Regions from separate parts of the Homo sapiens genome. Here region 1 is linked to region 2. The links come from fine-mapping of genetic effects on gene expression. Tissue or cell type: whole blood. Region 2 holds a variant in brackets; the other region holds the start of a gene. All regions are shown on one strand. Distances are from middle to middle.

Evidence for each region. PIP is the estimated chance that this variant, and not a neighbour inherited with it, causes the effect.
Region 1: it holds the start of PLBD1, and the variant in region 2 is fine-mapped to the expression of PLBD1 in whole blood (INTERVAL, PIP above 0.99). The same link has a PIP of 0.9 or more in neutrophils.

The regions. Positions count from the first base shown.
Region 1 is chr12:14,562,461-14,573,464 of GRCh38, reverse strand. It overlaps PLBD1 (phospholipase B domain containing 1), which reads left to right and starts at 5,582. Exons shown (of 11, transcript NM_024829.6): 1 at 5,582-5,883. The coding sequence starts at 5,769. It overlaps PLBD1-AS1 (PLBD1 antisense RNA 1), which reads right to left and starts at 5,733. Exons shown (of 6, transcript NR_120465.1): 1 at 5,659-5,733; 2 at 5,273-5,446. RefSeq lists silencers at 5,712-5,821, 6,561-6,737 and an enhancer at 5,635-6,316.
Region 2 is chr12:14,583,955-14,594,958 of GRCh38, reverse strand. The region is part of intron 2 of PLBD1-AS1 (PLBD1 antisense RNA 1); the gene reads right to left. Among named protein-coding and RNA genes, the nearest start is that of PLBD1, 22 kb to the right of the region's middle. The variant G/A (reference allele first, on the strand shown) is at 5,318.

The sequences.
Region 1 (11,004 bases), 21 kb after region 2:
AGATGAACCCAATGGCTGGCTCATTAATTGATGCACACTAGATCAGACTAGCTTTCAGGCCCTATTGCCACTCCCGCAGGGCTCAGAGGGGTTTGAGAATGAGCCAAACGACCCAAGAGTATCCAAGTCAGGATGAAGAGGTTGCCAAGTGTGTCAGAAACAGCTGGCTGCCTACCAGAAATGCGCGCTCTTACTTCCATACCGAGCAATGACATCCCAGGTAGAGGCTGCATTTCCCAGTCTTGTTAGCATAAAGATAGGGCAATATGTCTAGCTCTGCCAATGGAAGGTAAGCAGAAGTTATTAAGAAGCAGGGGTGCAGCCAAGCATGATGGCTCATGCCTGTAATCCCAGCACTTTGAGAGGCCGAGGTGGGTGGATCACCTGAGGTCAGGAGTTCTAGACCAGCCTGGCCAACATGAGAAAACCTGATCTCTACTAAAAACAAAAATTAGCCAGGCATCGTGGTGCATACCTGTAGTCCCAGCTACCCAGCTACTAGGGAGGCTGAGGCAGGAGAATCGCTTGAACCCGGGAATCGGAGATTGCAGTGAGCCGAGATAGGACCACTGCATTCCAGCCTGGGCGACAGAGTGAGACTCCATCTCAAAATATATATATATATATAAATAAAAACAAAAAAAGAAGAAGCAGGGGTGAGGGGTGCTTTTCTCTTCCCATCGCCAGAAGACAAGACTCCATAGCATTATGGTTCCCGCACACAGTTTGGCAACCACAGTGAATGCACAGAGTGTACCTGAGAATATAGTAAATACTCATGGGAAACAGTAGTAGCACAATACACTATAATCAATCAACGGAGCTCTCTGGGATACTTTAAATGTTTGAGGGACATGTAGCACCATCTGTAGGATACTGAGCAAATGACTACTATTGCATTGTGTGGCTCTAACTACTTAGTAAAAAGAACTGTTAGGTATTTCTTTTGGTCTGCAGCCCTAAAAATATATTACTGACACTCTACGGGCACTATAAACCAAGAAAGCATGGGAACTTCTGCCTTAGAGAATGACAGAGCCACAAGATGAAAGATAGGTGGGTTCTTAAATTTCTACATGGAGGAAAGCCACTTACTGATTAAGAACTCCCACACTGGACTGGCATACAAGACACCAATAAACTTTTGTTGCATTAATCCAATGAACTTTTGGAGTTTATCTGTCATCATAGCTAGCATTACATTAACTAATACACAGAGTATCTGGAAATCTAAATCCGAGGTCAAGGTAAAGCTGCAGATACCAACAGCAGATGCCTATGCACTACAATTCCTGCAGACCGAATGAGAAAAAAAGCTATATCTTAGTGGAGGCCACTAAGCCAAGAGTATGACTCACAGAGTAAATGTCCCTTATTTAGTACCAAGTCAATACATAAGCCCCCGAAGCTAAGGTCATCCTTAAGGAAAAATGGTAAGGACATAAAGAAGGCAAAGGACACTAAGGATTTGGTCCAAATGAAATTGCGCAACCTTAAATCTGGTATTTAAAAATTTTTACTGGTTGGACTCACACCTGTAATCCCAGCATTTTTGAAGGCCAAGGTGGGAGGATCACTTGAGCCCAGGAATTTGAGACCAGCCTGAGCAACATAGTGAGATCCTGTCTTACAAAAAATTAAAAAAAAAAAAAAATTACCATCAGTGGATGTGTTTGAATGCTAAGTTAATTACACTTTTTTGGAAAAGAAACAAATTTACATTTTGGATATTTCATTCTGGAACTGTAACTGTAAAATTTTCAATCCACCACATACATGTTACAGCAAGGAAAGAAATATAGAGGCCAATAGAGACCACTATCTTTGTTTCTGCAACTGGTCACCTGGCTATAGATAATTATATGTGACTTCTCTTCTCCACCTTTTTTCCATGTTCCCCTTGCTTTGGGCCAGCAACTCAGCTGCTGGGATTCTTTGCCCATTGGGATGAGGAGTCTGAGTCCCCAGTGGTGCTTCCCAGGTGAGATTATGCTCCCAGTCCTTTCATTTTGTTTTGGTTTTGGTTTTTTGAGATGGAATCTCTCTCTGTCATCCAGGCTGGAGTGCAGTGGTGCGATCTCAGCTCACTGCAACCTCTGCCTCCTGGGTTCAACTGATTCTCCTGCATCAGCCTCTCAAGTAGCTGGGATTACAGTCATGAGCCACTATGCCCAGCTAATTTTTGGTATTTTTAGTAGAGACGAGGTTTCACCATGTTGGCCAGGCTAGTCTCGAATTCCTGATCTCAAGTGATCCACCCAACTCGGCCTCCTGAAGTGCTGGGATTACAGGAGTGAGCCACCGCATCCAATGCTCCTACTCCTTTTGATAGTAAGGCAAAATTACCAATACTACAATCCTATTCTTAACCATTCAAACATATTTTTATGTTTTAAGAGGAGCTCAAAAAAGACCAATTGCAATTCAGTAATGCACTTTCAAATTCCAATTCAATAATACTTCCTTATTGTGTCTCCTGGTAGAAACACCTCCACCCTTGGCTCACCAAAAGTTGGCATTCCTGCACCAAAAGTTGGTACAGGAAGAGAATAATGGACGCTGAGTAGCCCCAAACCACACAAGTCCATTATAGAAGTGATGAGAACATTTCGCAGCTGGCATCTTTGGTTCTCCTCATTGCAGCTTTAGTATGTGAATCCAAAAAATCTGAGACAGGTCTCAGTCAATTTAGAAAGTTTATTTTGCCAAAGTTAAGGACACACCAGGGCCACAGCCTCAGGAGGTCCTGACAACATGTGCCTAACGTGGTCGGGGTACAGCTTACTTTTATACATTTTAGGGAGATATGAGACATCAGTCAATACGTGTAAGATGTACATTGGTTCAGTATGGTAAGGCGAGACAACTCAAAGTGGGGTATTCCATGTTAGAAGTAGAAAAGAGACAAAATGTTACATTCTTTTGAATCCTTGATCAGCCTTCCACAGAATACACAACTTAGTCTGGCCCAGGGAGTCTGCATTTTTACATAAACAATACTGCAGAGGAAGCAATCAGATGTGCATTTGTCTCAGGTGAGCCTCAGAGGGATGACTTTTAAGTTCTGTCTTCCCTTTGTCCACAGGGAATTTCCTTGTGGGCAAACTGTGAGGGAGGTATGTAGCTTCTTATCTTTGTAGCTATCTTATTTCAGAATAAAATGAGAGGCAGGTTTGCCTGACATAGTTTCCAGCTTGACTTTTCCCTTGGCTTAGTGATTTTGGGGTCCCAAGATTTATTTTCCTAACTATGTGTGAGTTTTGCAGCTCATTTTCCTCCCAGATATGTAAAACTGGCATAATTTAAAGAAAGCAAGATTTATCATCTAATTCAGTGATTCTCAACTAGGGGGCAATTTTGCCCCCCTACGGGAGCATTTGACAATGTCTGGAGACATTTTCAATGGGGGTGCCACTAGCATCCAGTAGGTAAAGGCCAAGGGGTGTCCAGGACAACCCCCCCACAACAAAGAGTTGTCTGCTCCAAAATTTCAATAGTGCTGATGTGGAGAAGTCCTGATCCAATTAATTTGTTTATATGTATAATTTGCTCCCCACTACTGGAATGCAAGCTCTGCAAGGGCAGGGACTTTGTTTTGTCTACTGCTCTGTGCTTGGAACATGGGAGTCAACGAATATTTGATGACAAATAATAGATGAATGAATGCCTCAAGGTTCACATTAGGCATTTATATGCATCTTACTTCATCAGAACACTTGGCTCCTTGGATCAGAAGGGTTAGTAAGGTGAAGGAGGGTGGTATAGGGCAATATGACTCAAATATTTGGGGTGGCACCACTTCCTTGAACATCCTAATGTGGTTCTCTTCCCATCATAACACAACCAAAATTTTCATTTTTGGTTCATTTTAATTTTCTAACTTGAAGGAAAATGTGCAACTTTTACAATGTCCTCGATGTCTTCATTTTAATTTTTCTTCATTTAAATTTTCTAACGAAGGAAAATGTGCAACTTTTACAATGTCCTCGATGTCTTCGTTTTAATTTTTCTTCATTTTAATTTTCTAACTTGAAGGAAAATGTGCAACTTTTACAATGTCCTCGATGTCTTCATTCATTAAATGCCATTAAACATAATTGTGACTTTAATTTTAATTAAATAAAAATGAGTTGGAGTCTCCCTGTGTGGCACAGGCTTGTCTTGAACTTTTGGGCTCCGGTGATCCTCCCACCTTGGCCTCCCAAAGTGTTGGGATTACAGGCATGAGCCATGGTGCCTGGACCACAAAATTGTGACTTGTGTTTCACAATTTGCACAGAGATTTGATGAACTTTTAGGTTCTTTATCTTTTCTAACAATTACATTTTCCCCGTTATGAAAGGTACTGCTTATTCTCTCTTCTCATCTCTCCTTGACACCTAGGTTAAGCTTAGAAGAAAGGCCAAGAGGAAGAGTGGGGTGCTGAGGTTCCCATCTGAGAGGTGGCTTGTTCCCTCCTTCCCCCTCTCCCACTGCACCTTAAACATAGCTCTAACACAGTAGAATGGCAAGTTCTGTGTACTTGTTTATCTATATGGCTTAGTTCTTTTTTAAAAAAATTATTATTGTTATTATTATTATTTTTTTTTGAGACGAATCTCGCTCTGTCGCCCAGGCTGGAGTAGAGTGGCGCGATCTCGGCTCACTGCAAGCTCCGCCTCCCGGGTTTACGCCATTCTCCTGCGTCAGCCTCCCAAGTAGCTGGACTACAGGCGCCCGCCACCGTGTCCGACTAATTTTTTGTATTTTTAGTAGAGACGGGGTTTCACCGTGTTAGCCAGGATGGCCTCGATATCCTGACCTCGTGATCTGCCCGCCTCGGCCTCCCAAAGTGCTGGGATTACAGGCGTGAGCCACGGCGCCCGGCTGGCTTAGTTCTTTTTGTCTGTGGTGAGGCATGCTCTTAGCTGTCTTTATATCACTGGTATCTGGAGTATAAGATGGGCCCAGCCAATGCTGAGTGAATGAATGAAATGCCTTTTGCCTACTTCACAATGTCACCTAGGGCACCCGGTGCCAACTTCACAATATCACCCAAGGCATAACTTTTGACTACTTCACAATGTCACTTTTAACTGACCCCACACAGAAATGGGGACTCCACAGAAACGTAGGAGTGTGTCTAGTGTCAGCCCCGTCTGAATCACTCTCCTGTGGTGGCTCCAGCCAACGAAGAGGAAGCAAAAAGGATAAAAAATCTGAGCTACAGCGCATGGATTTAGGTTAAACAGCCTGGGAATGAGGGGTACGCTAATCGCTGAGGAAAACGCACCTGTGGAGGCCTCTCCAGAAACAGCAGAGGATCCGAGCTGCGTGTAGGCAGGGCGCGCATGTCACCCTGGCCCGGGCGCCTGGTCCGCTGCTGGAGATAAATGGTCGACCCCGGAGGGAGAGGCTAGTAGGGGTGTTGATGTGAACTGATTCGCCCAAGCCTTGGGCCGCAAAACTGCGAAAGAAAGCGGCAGGCAGCCTCTGCATTTCCCAGAAGTGCAGCTGGGGAACTTTCCCAGACCGGCCCAGGGGTTGCTAGAGGGTCAGACGTAAAGGATCCGCCTTTCCTAGGCGGGGTGGGCCCCAGGCCACCACGTGAAGCGTCCTCGCCCCTCAGAGCCCGGAGCAGGCCGGGCTCAAGAAAGAGGAAAGTTGAGGACGCCCCACCTCGGAGAGGCGGCGCCCCTGAGTAGGCCAGGAGCCTCTCTTGCAACTTCTGCCACCGCGGGCCACCGCGGCCGCCTGATCCCGCAGAGGAAGGTCGCGGCCGTGGAGCGATGACCCGCGGCGGTCCGGGCGGGCGCCCGGGGCTGCCACAGCCGCCACCGCTTCTGCTGCTGCTGCTGCTGCTGCCGCTGTTGTTAGTCACCGCGGAGCCGCCGAAACCTGCAGGTGAGCAGAGCGCGCCCTGGGCGGGGGGCGCCCGGGGAGGCTCCTAGGAGCCTGTTAGCGCCCGTGCCCCGCGTCCGGCCGAGTTGACGTCCAGCGGGCGTCTGGTTCCTGGGTGAACTCAGAGAAACGCGCCTCCGGCCGGCGGTCTCGCTCCAGCCCTGCGGCTGCGCAGCGAGGGCACTTGAGAAGGGCATGGCGAGTGCGTCTGCCAACTTTACAAGTTTTGGCCCGAATTCTTGGCCAACAAATCGGTTCGCTCCTGCGCCGATTCTTGGCCCACAGAGCCTGGGCTGGTCTTAAAAACTCCAGCCAATGGGCATCTAAATATATTTATCCAGATTGTAGGGAGGTATGGTTCCGGCTTGCCATTTGTTTTGTGTTTTAAAAATTTACATTGACTTTGGCTTAAAATCACGATTGCACGATTGTCAGTTTGATACGTGCCTGGCAGTGGGCTTAAGGGCCTTTTGGTTTTGTTGTTGTTGTTGAGACAGAGTCGCTCTCTGTGGGCGACGCTGGAGTGCAATGGTGTGATCTCGGCTCACTGCAACTTCCGCCTCCCGGGTTCAAGCGATTCTCCTCCCTCAGCTTCCCAAGTAGCTGGGATTACAGGCGTCAGCCACCATGCCCAGCTAATTTGTGCATTATTAGTAGAGACGAGGTTTCACCATGTTGGACAGGCTGGTCTCGAACGCCTGACTCGGGCGATCCGCCTGCCTCGGCCTCCCAAAGTGCTGGGATTACAGGCATGAGCCACCGCGCCCGGCAGTTTTTTTTTTTTTTTTTTAATATATAATCCTAAATAGGATTATATTCCCCATTCTGCAGATGAGAAAAGTGAGATTGATCAGAAGTAATTCGCATAAAGATAACACAGCAAATAAGACAGAGTTAGGGGATGCCAGAGGGCATTTTCTTAACTACTTCCCTCTTGGAAAAACAGGTTTTATCTCTACAGGTATTCATGCAAATCTACATCCTTTGCCAAAATTAAATTAAATTAAATTAAAAAGCCTTGGATTTATGATTTCCGTTCCTAAGGAGGTGAAGATTATGAACTGTAACTAAGGGACTTGAAAGAATTCTAAAGTAATAATAAGAGAATTAATTTTGTCTTATTTCATAATCCCCTTTTCTGTGCTGACCTTGTACAAGAGTAGGGTGGGGCTTGGGGGAGGATGCCCCTTCCTAAATATGTGTACTGATTCTTATTACACTACCTTCCATCATCAAGAGCCTTCGTTTTTGAGACTTGCTTAGTTATCACTCTTCAATCTTAAATCTTTCCAGTCTGTGGGATCAGATGTACCCACAGGCTCCTGACTCGTGATTTTCTGTGTTCTTTGCCTAAACTATGGAGGTGGCCTTGGTGTCTACTTCTAGTCTAGGGAGACAGCTCATTCAGAGGTACCTGGGGGAGGCTGGGGAGGGTCCCAAAAGTGGAGGTAGCTTTTGTGTTTGGAATGCTGGCTAAAATCTTTATTCCTTTTCTGTTTTTTTGGACGAGTGAGATTAAGTGTTTTTGTAGGTGGAGGGGGCAGCCTGAGGAGTGAGACAGGCGTTGTTTTTCTGAAGATGGAGCACTATTTATTCAAGAAGGTACCACCTTGTAAGAAACTGCATCTTAAACAGTTCCTCCAACAGGAAGCTGACTCCATGCTTGGAGGTTCTGGAGCCAAGGCAGAAAGTAAGGACATTTCTGAGATGAAGTGATCCTGACAGCACCATGCCCAGCAATCTGGAAAGGATTCTTACTTACCTAGGTGTTAAGGACATCTGGTGATGCCACACTATTTCAGCAGATGAGATCTCTGTTTCCTTTGTCCTACCCACATTAATCTGTTTTCCCTTGAGGCTTTTTGGGTCTTTGTCTTTACCCTTCTACTAGCCTGCGAACAACCAAAGAGTAAAGAACTGGGACTTGCTACCTCTCACTTGTCATGTGTTCTCTGAAGTACCCAGCTCAGTACCCTGAACTTAGTAGGAATTCAGTAAACACTAAAGGGATTGCATGTCCATCCCCTTGGAATGGATTTTATATCCACTCATATGCATCTATCTATCCAAAAACAACTTCTTCAATTTTTAATTTTACTTTTTTTTTTTTTTACTATTATTTCCTATTATTTTTATTTTCCCCCCAGGCTGGGTACAGTGGCGTGATCTCGGCTCACTGCAACCTCCACCTCTTTGGTTCAAGCAATTCTCCTGACTCAGCCTCCCGAGTAGCTGGGATTACAGGCACACACCACCACGCCCAGCTAATTTTTATATTTTTTGTAGAGATGGGATTTCAACAGGTTGGACAGACTAGTCTCGAACTCCTGGCCTCAGGTGATCTGCCCGCCTCAGCCTCCCAAAGTGCAGGGATTACAGGTGTGAGCTACCATGCCCGGACACTTTTAGTTAATTCTTGCATATTCTTCAATTTGTAAAGGTTACTCTATAGTTTTATTATTCCAGAAGTTGACAAATAATTGCACAGTCATTCTAGCCAAATCTTTCAAGCTATGATTTCAGACATATGGTGTTGCGTTTATCTTTCCAGACCAAAAGCCCCATAATTGATTTTAGAAGGTCCTTATATAATTTTTTCTAAGTGGTATGTATAGAGAAGTCAGGTGGTCACTAGAGAAATAAATCATACCTTTATCTGGTTCTGAAAAAGTTTAACATCTTGGAAGTCATTCAGTCTCCATAAGGTGATTTGGCAGACCTATGATTGGAGTCAGTTTCAGTTGATCCTTTAACTCTGCAGACATTCTTTTAGGGTTGGCTGCTGAGAGACTCATAATATGGTATGTATATTGGTAAAACTGGTTCAGAATCTGGCCCTCGGCCTTGCAGGGCTAGACTCCAGAAATTCAGTCTTTCTACTGCTCCATATCTGATCACAGCTAAGAAAGCTGATTCACCCTGATATACACCCAAGTCTATTCATCAGACTTAGCATAATTTTTAGTTAGAAATATAACTGTCAGGCAGACTGGATATTTGTGAGGTCTGCTCTAGGCACTTTCTCACTGTAATCAAACCACATGGGGGTAGATAACATCACAGATTGTCAGGCTGGAGGCCTGATTTGTCTGTCTCCTGGTAGGCATCATACACTTGAGTCAGCCGAGAGAGTGCCCCTCCACTGCATGGTGCTTGCCTAGCATTGCTGGTCCCTGATTTTGGGACACTGCCTTTTCCACATTGCCATGGCTTACCAGTGTCCACTTGAGAATAACAGTTAATACCTTTATCTGGTTGTCAAAAAGTTTAATATCCTGGAACATTCAGTCTCCATAAGCTGATTTGGCAGACCTATGACTGGGGTCAATTTCAGTTGCTCCTTTAACTCTGCAGACATTCTTATTTATTCATTTATTTGGAGATAGGGCCTTGCTCTGTCACCCAGGCTGGAGTACAATGGTACGATCATAGCTCATTGCAGCCTCAGAGTAGATGGGACTACAGGTGCACACCACCACACTTGGCTAATTAAAAAAAAAAATTATTTGTAGAGATAGAGTCTCACTATGTTACCCAGATTGATCTCAAACTCTTGCTCGCAAGTGATCCTCCCACAGGTTCATTTCCCAAAGCCCTGGGGTTCAGGCGACCGCCACTGCACCTGGTCTCTGAGGACATTCTTATTTCCAAATTCATTCGACATAAGGCCTCACAGTTGCTCAGTATGTTCATTCTTTACACGGAAGTCCTTCATTCTTGGAAGTATAGTATTAGAGAGGTAACACAGAATTCCAGCAAGAGGAAATCCTTTGGAACCCTAATGCCTGTGTTTGAAGCCTGACTCCAACACTTGCCATGTGACCTTTAGTCAGTTATTTTCTCTATATGTACTTTGGTTTCCTCAACTGGAAGATGGGTATTATAAGTGTCTCTATCTCATGGGGCTGTTGTGAGAAACACTGTGCCTGACATGCAGTAAGTGCTGTATAATTGAGTGGCCACTGAAGTTGTTTTTCTCTAAAAAGTTATCATGTCTTGATAAGGCAGGCAGGATTGAAGATGATAATCCATGTGCTTTGAAGTAATTTTTTTTTTGTTGTTTTTTTGAGACAGAGTCTTGCTCTGTTGCCCAAGCTGGAGTGCAAAGGCGCGATCTTGGCTCCGTGCAACCTCCGCCTCCCAGGTTCAAGTGATTCTCATGCCTCAGCCTCCCGAGTAACTGGGATACAGGCATGCACCACCATGCCTGGTTGATTTTTGTATTTTTTGTAGAGATGAGGTTCACCATTTTGCCCAGGTTGGTCTCAAACTCCTGGCCTCAAGTGCATCGCCTGCCCTGGCCTCCCGAAGTGCTGAGATTACAGGTGTGAGCCATCGTGCCCAGTCCCAACTTGAACATTTTCTTGTGCTCTCCCTTTATCAACTTGTTTGCATAATGTACACAAGATAAATTCCAGAACAAAGTCTGAAGGAAGTGCCCACTTATCTTCATTATTAAACTTTGTTTCCTGGTCCTTCTGAAAACATAAATTTGGTAGCAAAGATAAAAATCTTTAGAAGAATATTTAAAAGGATCCTCCTTCAGTGTTTACATTGAAGTAAAACAATTTTTTTAAAAAAAATTCATGGTGGCTTATTTTTATAATATATATGCTAAGAAACATATGAACTTTGTCTTGAGTGTTGACATGCAGAAAAGAAATTTTTGTTTTCATACTTCTTTAGACATGAATTTTACATTGTCACTTGTTATCCTTTGCTTTTGTTAGATTTCACATTATAAGGCATTAACTATGGAGACAGCAAAATAAAAGAGGTAGTGGTACCCTTCATGGAATAAAACCAAAGGGATTTATTTTCTTCAGCATTTTAAGTAATTTTTATGCATTTAGGTTTTGCCTTTCAAAAAAATGGAATGGAGTCTAGTTTATACAACTTATATGTTACAATCTTTCGAACATCCAGCTTGAAAATGTGACTAGAAAATGTGTTAATAATGTTATTACGGAGCTTCTTTTTACTACTGCAAAACAGGAATTAATGTGGTAAAAAATGAAATAGAGGTAGTGAAATTATGGGGAAATTTTAGCTTAAGACTTGAAACACTGTCTACACAGATAACATAATCATGTTCAGTTACAGTCTTTTTTTTTTTTTTTTTTT
Region 2 (11,004 bases):
TACCAATGACATTCTTCACAGAACTAGAAAAAACTATTTTAAAAATCGTATGGAACCAAAAAGGAGCCCAAATAGCCAAGGCAATCCTAAGCATAAAGAAAAAAGCTGGAAGCATCACACTACCTGATTTCAAATTATACTATAGGGCTACAGTAACCAAAACAGCATGGTACCGGTACAGAAACAATCACATGGACCAATGGAACAGAATAGAGAGCCCAGAAATAATGCCACATACCTACATACATGTCTGTAGGTGATGTCACATCTGATCTTTGACAAAGCTAACAAAGACAAGCAATGGGAAAGGACTCTCTATTCAATAAATTGTGCTGGGATAACTGGCTAGTCATACACAGAAGATTGAAATTGAACTCCTTCCTTATACCATATACAAAAATTAACTCAAGATGGGTTAAAGACTTAATTAATTAATTACTTTATTATTTATTTATTTATTTTGAGATGGAGTCTCCCTCTGTCGCCCAGGCTGGAGTGCAGTGGCATGATCTCGGCTCACTGCAACCTCTGCATCCTGGGTTCAAACGATTCTCCTACTTCAGCCTCCCGAGTAGCTGGGATTACAGGCATACACCACCATGCCCAGCTAATTCGTCTATTTTTTTTAGTAGAGACGGGATTTTTCCATGTTGGCCAGGCTGGTCTCCAACTCCTGGCCTCAGATGATCAGCCCACCTCAGCTTCCCAAAGTGCTGGAATTACAGGCGTGATCCACCGCGCCCAGCCTTAAAGACTTAATTTAAATGTACGACCCAAAACTATAACAACCCTGGAAGACGACCTAGGCAATACCATTCTGGACATAGGAACAGGCATAGATTTCATGATGAAGACGTCAAAAGCAATTGCAACAAAAGCAAAAATTGACAAATGAGATCTAATTAAAGGCTTCTGCACAGCAAAAGAAACTATCAACAGAGTAAGCAGACAGCCTACAGAATGGGAGAAAATATTTGTAAACTATGCATCTGACAAAGATCTAATATCCAGCACCTATAAGGAACTAAAACAAATGTATAGGAAAAAACAAAAAGTAGTCAAAGAGCAAGAACAGACAGTTTTCAAAAGAAGACATATATGCAGCCAACAAGCATATGAAAAAAAGCTTAATATCGCCGATCATTAGAGAAGTGCAAATCAAAACCATAGTGAGATACCATCTCATTCAAGTCAGAATGGCTATTAAAAAGTCAAAATAGCCCAGCATGGTGGCTCACGCCTGTAATCCCAACACTTTGGGAAGCTAAGGTGAGCGGATCACCTGAGGTCAGGAGTTTGAGACCAGCCTGGCCAACATGGCAAAAATCCCGTCTCTACCAAATACACAAATTAGCTGGGCATAGTGGCAAGTACCTGTAATCCCGGCTACTTGGGAGGCTGAGGCAGGAGAATCGCTTGAGCCTGAGAAGCGGAGGTTGCAGTGAGCTGAGATCACGTTGCTGCACTTCAGCCTGGGCAAGAGAGCAAGACTCCGTCTAACTAAACAACAACAACAACAAAAAAAAAAACAGATGCTGGCAAGGTTGTAGAGAAAAGGGAACGTTTATATACTGTTGGTGGGAGTATAAATTAGCTCAACCATTGTGGAAAACAGTGTGGTAATTCCTCAAAGGGCTAAAAACAGATCTATCATTCAGCTCAGCAATTCCATCACTGGGTATATACCCAAAGGAATATAAATCATTCTAACCATAAAGACACACACATGTGTACGTTCATTTGCACAGGAACAGAAAACCAAATACCACATTTTCTCACTTATAAGTGTGAGAGCTAAATAATGAGAACAAATGGACACATAGAGGGGAACAATACACGCTGGGGCCTATCAGAATGTGGAGGCTGGGAGGAGGATCAGGAACAATAACTATTGGGTAGTAGGCTTAATACCTGGGTGACAAAATAATCTGTATGACAAACTCCTATGACACATGTTAGCCTATATAACAAACCTGCACATGTACTCCTGAACTTAAAATAAAAGTTAAACAAAATGAATAACCTTAATGTAATCGTGAGAAAACATCAGGCCAACTCAAATTGAAGAACATTCTATTAAATACTTAGCCAGTTCTAAAACAATAGAGGAAATAGTGGGACCCTAAGAGGAATTGCTTTTATAAGGTTCTTAGGTCAAAGGACTAAGAAATGAAATAAATTTGAAGTTACAGAGACAACCATTGGAGGAACTGATAACATTGATAATGGAAGAGGCTAGAGAATAAGACTGAGAGGGTTGCAAGTGAGCTGACTCTTCATCTATCATAGTAGGAAATCAGTCATATAATGTCTCAGTTAGTAAAACAATAAACAACTGTAAAGGCATATTGTTGCAATTTATGGTAACAATCTTCAGAAGATGCAAAGGCGGGAAAAGTAAAAAGGGTCAACTCCAGAGACATGGGACTAGTGGAAGAGGAATGTCAGCTAGGTGACTTGCTTTTTATTATAATATTAATGATATTTTTATTTTTTAACCATCTACATTTATTACTTAGATTATTTGTAAGAAATAAATATTTTGTCATAAAAATTGAGGGTGATTATATTTTTTAAAGATTCAGAATTGTCTTTAAAATGTATTTTTTCTCATGTGTACAAAATGGCACTCAATTATAGAAGGAAAAATTAACCCATACAATTTTTTTCAGGAACCTAACTATTTGCACAAAATGAAGTATTCCTGTCCTTCTGAGAGTATATTTTGAATGATCATCTAGTCTGTTTTTATGACTAAAAAAGAGCAACAACAAAAATGATGTAGGAAATTGCTCCTTTTATGCCTGAGTCCCATGATTTTATTCAGCCAGCACATGGCAGGCCAGCTGTTGAATGATATATTCCAAAACGGTCTTGTTCTAATGGTGGTGATAAGCATTATAAAAATATAATAATATCCATTTTAGAATTCTCCTGGAGGAAGGCTTTGTATTTGCAGCAACAGCACATTGTTTCATGTTTGCTAAAAATGCCATCATCAATTTTCCATGCTTTTATGGAACATAAAACTTTATGTATGTGTACACACATGCAAAGACACCATACAGTGCAATCCCAGCTAAAATACATCATATCTTGCACCTTTAAATAACTGCAATTTGGCACTGTGTAGATTACTCCTAGGTCAAATCATTTTATGTATTAACCCAACCCCAGGGTAGATAGATTACATGGCAAAGAAAGCAGTGACATTGTCCTGGCTCAAATGTGTCCTAATATTTGGACAGATTTATGATTTACTACTCTTGTTTGTTGCAAAAAAAAAAAGAGTTATCATTTTCAGTTCTACATTTCTTTGGAAATAAGACCTGCCTTGTCGTTTATACAAGTACAGGTGTTTTGTAAGAGTGTACATTGCACAGGAGCCTTCTGCGGCTTCTACAGAGATTGTACCTTGCCCAGTCGCTCACTCAGCTCAAGAACAAAAGCAGTGGCCAGGCGCAGAGGCTCATGCCTGTAATCCAGCACTTTGAGAGGCCAAGGCAGGCGGATCATGAGGTCAGGAGATCTAGACCATCCTGGCTAACAGTGAAACCCCATCTCTACTAAAAATACAAAAAATTACCAGGCATGGTGGCACACGCCTGTAGCCCCAGCTACTCGGGAGGCTGAGGCAGGAGAATCGCTTGAACCCAGGAGGCAGAGGTTGCAGTGAGTCAAGATCATGCCACTGCACTCCAGCCTCGGCTACAGAGCCAGAGTCTGTCTCAAAAAAAAAAAAAAAAAAAAGCAGTAGAGAGCCAGTGCTTCTCAGTCTGTGATGAAGGATGAAGGGGTATTTTGCTTTTTTCCATTTCACCTCTGTCTCAGAATAATACTTTTAAAACCACAAAAATTACATGCTTGCATGTTGTGACAATATCCAACTGCCATAAAAGTTTCCAGACGCTTACCCTCGCAAAGCCAGGAGAATCCAGAAACAATAACTAGTCACGACAGAGAACTATTTCAGAAAAACACCACAGCAGGCACTGCTTGGCACCTATACCATGAGAGACTGTATGCTGGAAACTGCACCACAGCTGCCCCGGAAGAACTAGTCGCCTCTGCCACCTGCCTGCCGAAAATACTATCTCCCCAAATGTGGTGGCCTCTTCACATTACTCCAAGATTTCCACTTCTTTGCAGCTAGGACTCTGTACATGATCTAGCTTCTGCTTGGCACAGTCCTAGCTGCAAAGAAGTCTGAGAAATGGTGTTAAACTTTCAAGGAGCCAAACTAGAAAGTGATTAAAAGGGAACCAATTTTCAGTATCTGCTTCAAGTTCTCTTGTATTGATAGAAATCCTTAGGTGCTCAGATCCTCTGTGTAAACTATCCCTCACCTAACCCCTGCCAAAAGGGTGAAAGAGCCCTGTGCATAGCTGTAAATATGCTCCCCTGGTCACAGCTGATTGGAATAAGGTAAACCACTAACCCCTGCAGGGCCAATTCCATTTTCTAGGAAATGCTGCAGGAAGTCACAAGTCAATCAGAGTTGAGTGATGAAGATGGCAGGTCATGTAGAGAGAGCCATGGCTGGAACTAAAATATTTTTTTTTTTTTTGAGATAGAGTCTCACTCTGTCACCCAGGCTGGAGTGCAGTGGCACAATCTCGGCTCACTGCAACCTCTACCTCCCAGGTTCAAGCAATCCTCCTGCCTCAGCCTCCCAAGTAGATGGGATTACAGGCACCCACCACCAGGCCCGTCTAATTTTTGCATTTTTCGTAGAGACGGGTTTTCACCATATTGGTCAGGCTGGTCTCGAGCTCCTGACCTCCGGTGATCCACCTGCCTCGGCCTCCCAAAGTGGAATTGAAATATTTCTACCAAGTGCAGATGGAAGAGGAAGAAACCAATCAGTGAGTAGGCCAAGAAGCATAAAGCAAATACCCTAAGCAAACAAGGAGGAGAGACTACACCACCTCTGAGAGTCAGAGTTTATCCTCACTTCCTAAATGCCAAAGAGTTGGCCTGGGCTTCCTGCTCTGGAGATTCAAGGGCAACCCTGGTACTTTCCTTTAGCAGAACTCCTCCAACCAGAAATTAACTGGTTTTGATGGCAGTGGCTGCTGCCATCACGCTGGCTGCGGCAAGGAGGCACGGGGCTGGGGCTGCACACTACATGGAGCCAGGGGGAGCCCCGCCCCTTCAGAGTTAAGTTGGGAGCTCCCCGAGTGCGGCAGCAGCTGCCCGAATGCAAGCTGCAAACCCAGGCCTCCCGCTCCACGGAGCAGGCAGAAGCCCTGCTCTCCTGGGTGGGGCTGCAACCGCCCAAACTGCTGCTGTGGATCTGAGCCTCCCTGGGTTCTTG[G/A]GGGGCCCAGGAGCAGGCAGAATCTCTGGCCATAGACTCAACGGCTGCAGACCTGGGCCTACCAGGCTCCACAGAACAGGCAGGCAGGAGCCTGAGACAAGCAGAAGCCCCACGCCTTCCGAGTTGCACCCTTCAGAGTTAGCGCAGGACCCAAGAGTCTTTGCAGCCTGCACCCCTGGGACCCCGGTAAGGGCCCCCCCCACCCTGTCTCTGCAGGCTTGGCGGTGTCTGCTCTCCCTGCCTGGCCTCTCTCCACTCCCTGTGCCCACTGTGATCTGGGAGCAGGGTTGAGGCTGAGCCCTGGGGCCAAGAATGGCAGAAGGAAACAGATAGATTCCCGGGTGGAAGGGGGCAGATCCCCAGTGAGGCTCCACCTTCAGGCCAGGGAGGAAGACATGTAGTCCTAACAAAAGGACTTGAAGGCCTGTGGGCTGCCAGTCCTGCTGACGGGAGTGGGGACTCATGGTGCTTCTTCTGGCTGCCCATGGCTGCCCATGGACCAATCAGCCTGCACTTCATCCCCTCTGAGGTCCATAAAAGCCCCGGGCTCAGTCAGAACAGGGCAGAGGATGGAGAGGACTCAGAGAGGGAGAAACAATGGGGTGGGATGACCCTCTGTAGACAGGAGCAACCCTCTTCAGGGCCTCCTTTCTGCTGAGAGCAGCAGACATTGGGAAGACCAGTAGCAGAAAGGAGCAGCCCTCTCCAGGGCCTCTGTTCTGCTGAGAGCTGAACACTCCACAGACAACCTACCTACAGAGAGGAGCTACCCACTGCGGCTCTCCTCTGAGCTGTTTTAACACTTAGTAAAGATCATCTTTGTCTTATTCACCCTTCACTTGTCTGTTACCTCATTCTTATTGGATGCAGGACAAGAACTCGGGCAAAGGCACCACCTGCCACAGAGGTTTCCAGCCAGAAAATTGACACCCCAGAGATCCTGTAACAGTTGCTGTGTTTGAAGTGTTCACTATTGTTGCTTTTTTTTTTCTACTTTAGCAAAGACGTGTCAGAATTATGATCATGGTCAGAAAGATAGCATCACTAACATACAAAAGTATGTGCTTAAGGAGGGTTGAATATTGTGGCTCATACCTTTAATCCCAACACTTTGGGAGGCTGAGGTGGAAGGATCCCTTGAGGCCAGGAGTTTGAGACCTGTTTGGGCAACATAGCCAGACCTAACTTCTAGTAGAAATTAAAAAAAAATTTTTTTTTAAGTAAGCAGGGCAAGGTAGCTCATGCCTGTAATCCCAACACTTTGGAAGGCCAAGGCAGGCAAATCACTTGAGCTCAGGAGTTGGAGACCAGCCTGGGCAACTTGTTGAAACCCTGCCTCTACAAAAAGTACACGAATTAACCAGACATGGTGGCATGCTTGTGGTCCCAGCTACTCTGGAGGCTGAGGTGGGAAAATCGCTGGAGCCTGGGAGGTTGAGGGTGCAGTGAGCTATGATCACACCACTGCACTCCAACCTGGGTGACAGAGGGAAACCTTGTCTAAAAAAATAATAATGTGGTAAAAAGGAATTTGAGAAAAATAAGAAGAAGAAGGGACAAGTGAGAGGTATGGAGAGGAATCAAGGATGGAAAATTAACCTGTTTCCAGGTTAATAACTGGTGAAAGAACCCTATCCTAATAGCTTGTTAACTGATGGGATGTAGTCTGCAGGTGACCAGGGCCTGTAGAAAGAGTGGAGGACTTCTGCGACAGGGCATAATGCCAGTGCCCAGGGCAGTGCCTGGACTGCTCACACCAAGAGGTTCCCGCTGGAGGTTCTACTCCGTTGTTGGCTGCTTGCTTGATTCCATGCCTAAAGAGTACAGAGGGGATTGTTGGGAACCTGCTGCTATCATAAAGCAATTGGAGGGCCTGGTGGCACACGCTGGTAGTCCCAGGTACTTAGGAGGCTGAGGCACGAGAATTGCTTGAACCAGGGAGGTGGAGGTTGCAGTGAGCCAAGATCATGCCCCTGTACTCCAGCCTGGGCGACAGAGAGATACTCTGTCTTAAAAAAATGAAAATAAAGCACTTGGAGAAGAACTAGAGTACCCATACTCTGGAAATGGAGCTGGGCACACTGGAACAGGCCAAGCTAGGCAGGAAGGAGGGGCACACCCCTCTTACACCTCAGTGCCTTCTCCTTTTGGCTTGAGCTTGTTCATATCTGTTCCCATGCCTTCCTTCCTCCTAACTACATATGATCTGTCTTTTGGACTCAGCTTGAATTCCACCTCCTCTAAGAGCCCCTTCAGACTAGAACATATGTCTTCTTCCCCTAACTTCCTGGGGTATTTATTGGTATTAACTATCACTGGGCACTTATCTGTGGAAGCTCTGTTTTGTTTTTGTTTTGTTTTGTTTTTTTGAGACGGAGTCTCATTCTGTCACCCAGGCTGGAGTGCAGTGGTGCAGTCTTGGCTCACTGCAACCTCCGCCTCCCAGGTTCATCCAATTCTTGTGTCTCAGTCTCTGAGTAGCTGGGATTACAGGCACACACCACCATGCCCAGCTAATTTTTGTATACTTTGTAGAGATGGGGTTTCATCATGTTGCCCAGGCTGGTCTTGAATTCCTGAGCTCAAGCGATCCACCTGCCTCGGCCTCCCAAAGTGCTGGGATTACAGGTGTGAGCCACCATACCCGGCCAGTGGAAGCTTTGTTCTCATGTGTGCATGACATATGCCACCAACTACTCTGTGAGTGCCCATTTAAGAAGGAAGCGATGTAGTCCTAAACAAAAATACAAAACTAAACCTAAACAGAAAGTCCATCTCATAGCATTTTATATACATTATGCATATATGAAATTATACATATGTATATATAAAATGTATGTGTGTATATATGAATATATAATGAATATATATGAACATATATATGAATATACATGAATATATAATGAATATATATGAATATATATATGAATATATGAATATATATGAATATATATGTATATATGAATATATATGAATATATATGAACATATATATGAATATATATGAACATATATATGAATATATATGAACATATATATGAATATATATGAATATATATGAACATATATATGAATATATATGAATATATATGAACATATATATGAATATATATGAACATATATATGAATATATATGAATATATGAATATATATGAACATATATGAACATATATGAACATATATGAATATATATGAATATATATGAACATATATATGAATATATGAATATATATGAATATATATATGGACATACATATGAGAATATATATATGGACATACATATGAGAATATATATATGGACATACATATGAGAATATATATATGGACATACATATGAGAATATATATATGGACATACATATGAGAATATATATATGGACATACATATGAGAATATATATATGGACATACATATGAGAATATATATATGGACATACATATGAGAATATATATATGGACATACATATGAGAATATATATATGGACATACATATGAGAATATATATATGGACATACATATGAGAATATATATATGGACATATATATGAGAATATATATATGGACATATAAATGAGAATATATATATGAATATATGAGAATATATATATGAATATATGAGAATATATATATGAATATAGATGAATATATATGAATATATGTATGAATATATATATGAATATATGTATGAATATATGTATGAATATGTATGAATATATATGAATATATATAAAGATTTATATATATATATGTACATGAAGGATTGGTTCCAGAACCCCTCATAAACCAAAATTCATAAATTCTCAAGTCCCTTATATAAAATGGGGTAGTATTTGCATATAGCCTATACACATACTACACATATTCACAAATACTTTAAATCATCTCTACATTATTTGCAATACATAATGCAATCTAAATGCTATGTAAATAGTTGTTATACTGTATTGCTTATATTATTTTTTATTGTTCTGTTTGTTAATATTTTCATTTGTCAATTGGTTAAATCTGAGGATGCAAAACCTGCAGATATGGAGGGCCAATTATATAAACAGTCATGCATATAACATTTTGGTCAATGATGAACCACATATGTGATTATTAGATTATAATGGAGCTGAAAAATTCCTGTTGCTCAATGACTTTGCAGCCATCATAAGGTAACGTGCAATGCATTACTCATGTGTTTGTGGTGATGCTAGTGTAAAGAAACATACTGCACTGCCAGTTATGTGAAAGTATAAGCACATACAATTATGTACAGTTATGTTATGTATTAATACTTGATAATAATAATAAGTGACTTTGTGACTGGTTTATGTATTTACTATAGTTTTATTGCTATTTTAGAGTTTACTCCTACTTATAAAAGAAAGTACTACAAAACAGCATGCTGGCCGGGCACGGTGGCTCACGCCTGTAATCCCAGCACTTTGGGAGGCGGAGGTGGCCGGCTCACCTGAGATCAGGAGTTCAAGACCAGCCTGACCAACATGGTGAAACTCTGTCTCTACTAAAAATACAAAAATTAGTTGGGCATGGTGGTGGATGCCTGTAATCCCAGCTATTCGGTAGGCTGAGGCAGGAGAATCACTGGAACCCGGGAGGCAGAGGTTACAGTAAGCTGAGATCGCGCCATTGCACTCCAGCCTAGGCAACAGAGCAAGACTCCGTCTCAAATGAATAAATGAATAAATAAATAATTAATTAATAAAATAGATAAAACAGCATGCCATGTTATGCAGGCAGCAGCCTCATAGGTCTCATGTTTACCACATCTCTTGATTGCATTATTTTCTCTTGTGCTTGATGTAACATGCTGTGTTCATCATGGCTCATAATCATTAAAAATTCACAGCTAATGCTGCCAATAAGAGGCCACATTAAGTGATTGACCAATTAAAGGTAACTGGGGATTACCAAAGTGGAAAATCAGTGATTGGTACTGTTCGCCAGTCAGGCATGTCCCATTTCACTATAGCTACAATCTTGATGAACAAGAACAAAGTCACAGAAACTGTTGAAGGATCTGCTTTATTGAAAGCAATGAGACTAACAAAAATTCTAGGAGGGCCTATATCAGATATGGAGAAATTTCTAATGACCTGGACTGAAGACCAGACACAGAAGTATATCCCTCTCAGCAACTATAGTCAAAGCAAATCTCTTCAGGACAATCGGTCAAAGCAAAAGGTTTGCAATGTTGAAAGAAAATATTAGACAGTTAGGATGTTGAGTTTACTGCTAGCTCTGGGTGGTTTAAACAATTCGGCCGGGCGCAGTGCCTCACACCTGTAATCCCAGCACTTTAGGAGGCCGAGACGGGCAGATCACCTGAGGTGAGGAGTTCGAGACCAGCCTGGCCAACTTGGAGAAACCCCGTCTCTACTAAAAGTACAAAATTAGCCAGGCGTGATGGCACATGCCTATAATCCCAGCTGCTCAGGAGGCTGAGGCAGGAGAATTACTTGAACCTGGGAGGCAGGGGTTGTGGTGAGCCAAGATTGCACCATTGCCCTCCAGCCTGGGCGACAAGAGCAAAACTCCATCTCAAAAAAATAATAATAATAAATTCAACAAGTATTACACATTGCATCGTGGTGAAAGTGAGTGGTGAGCCTGTGACTGCTGATGTGAAGGCAGCTGAATAATTTTTGAAAACTCTAGATAAGCTGATTATGAAGGAAGATTACT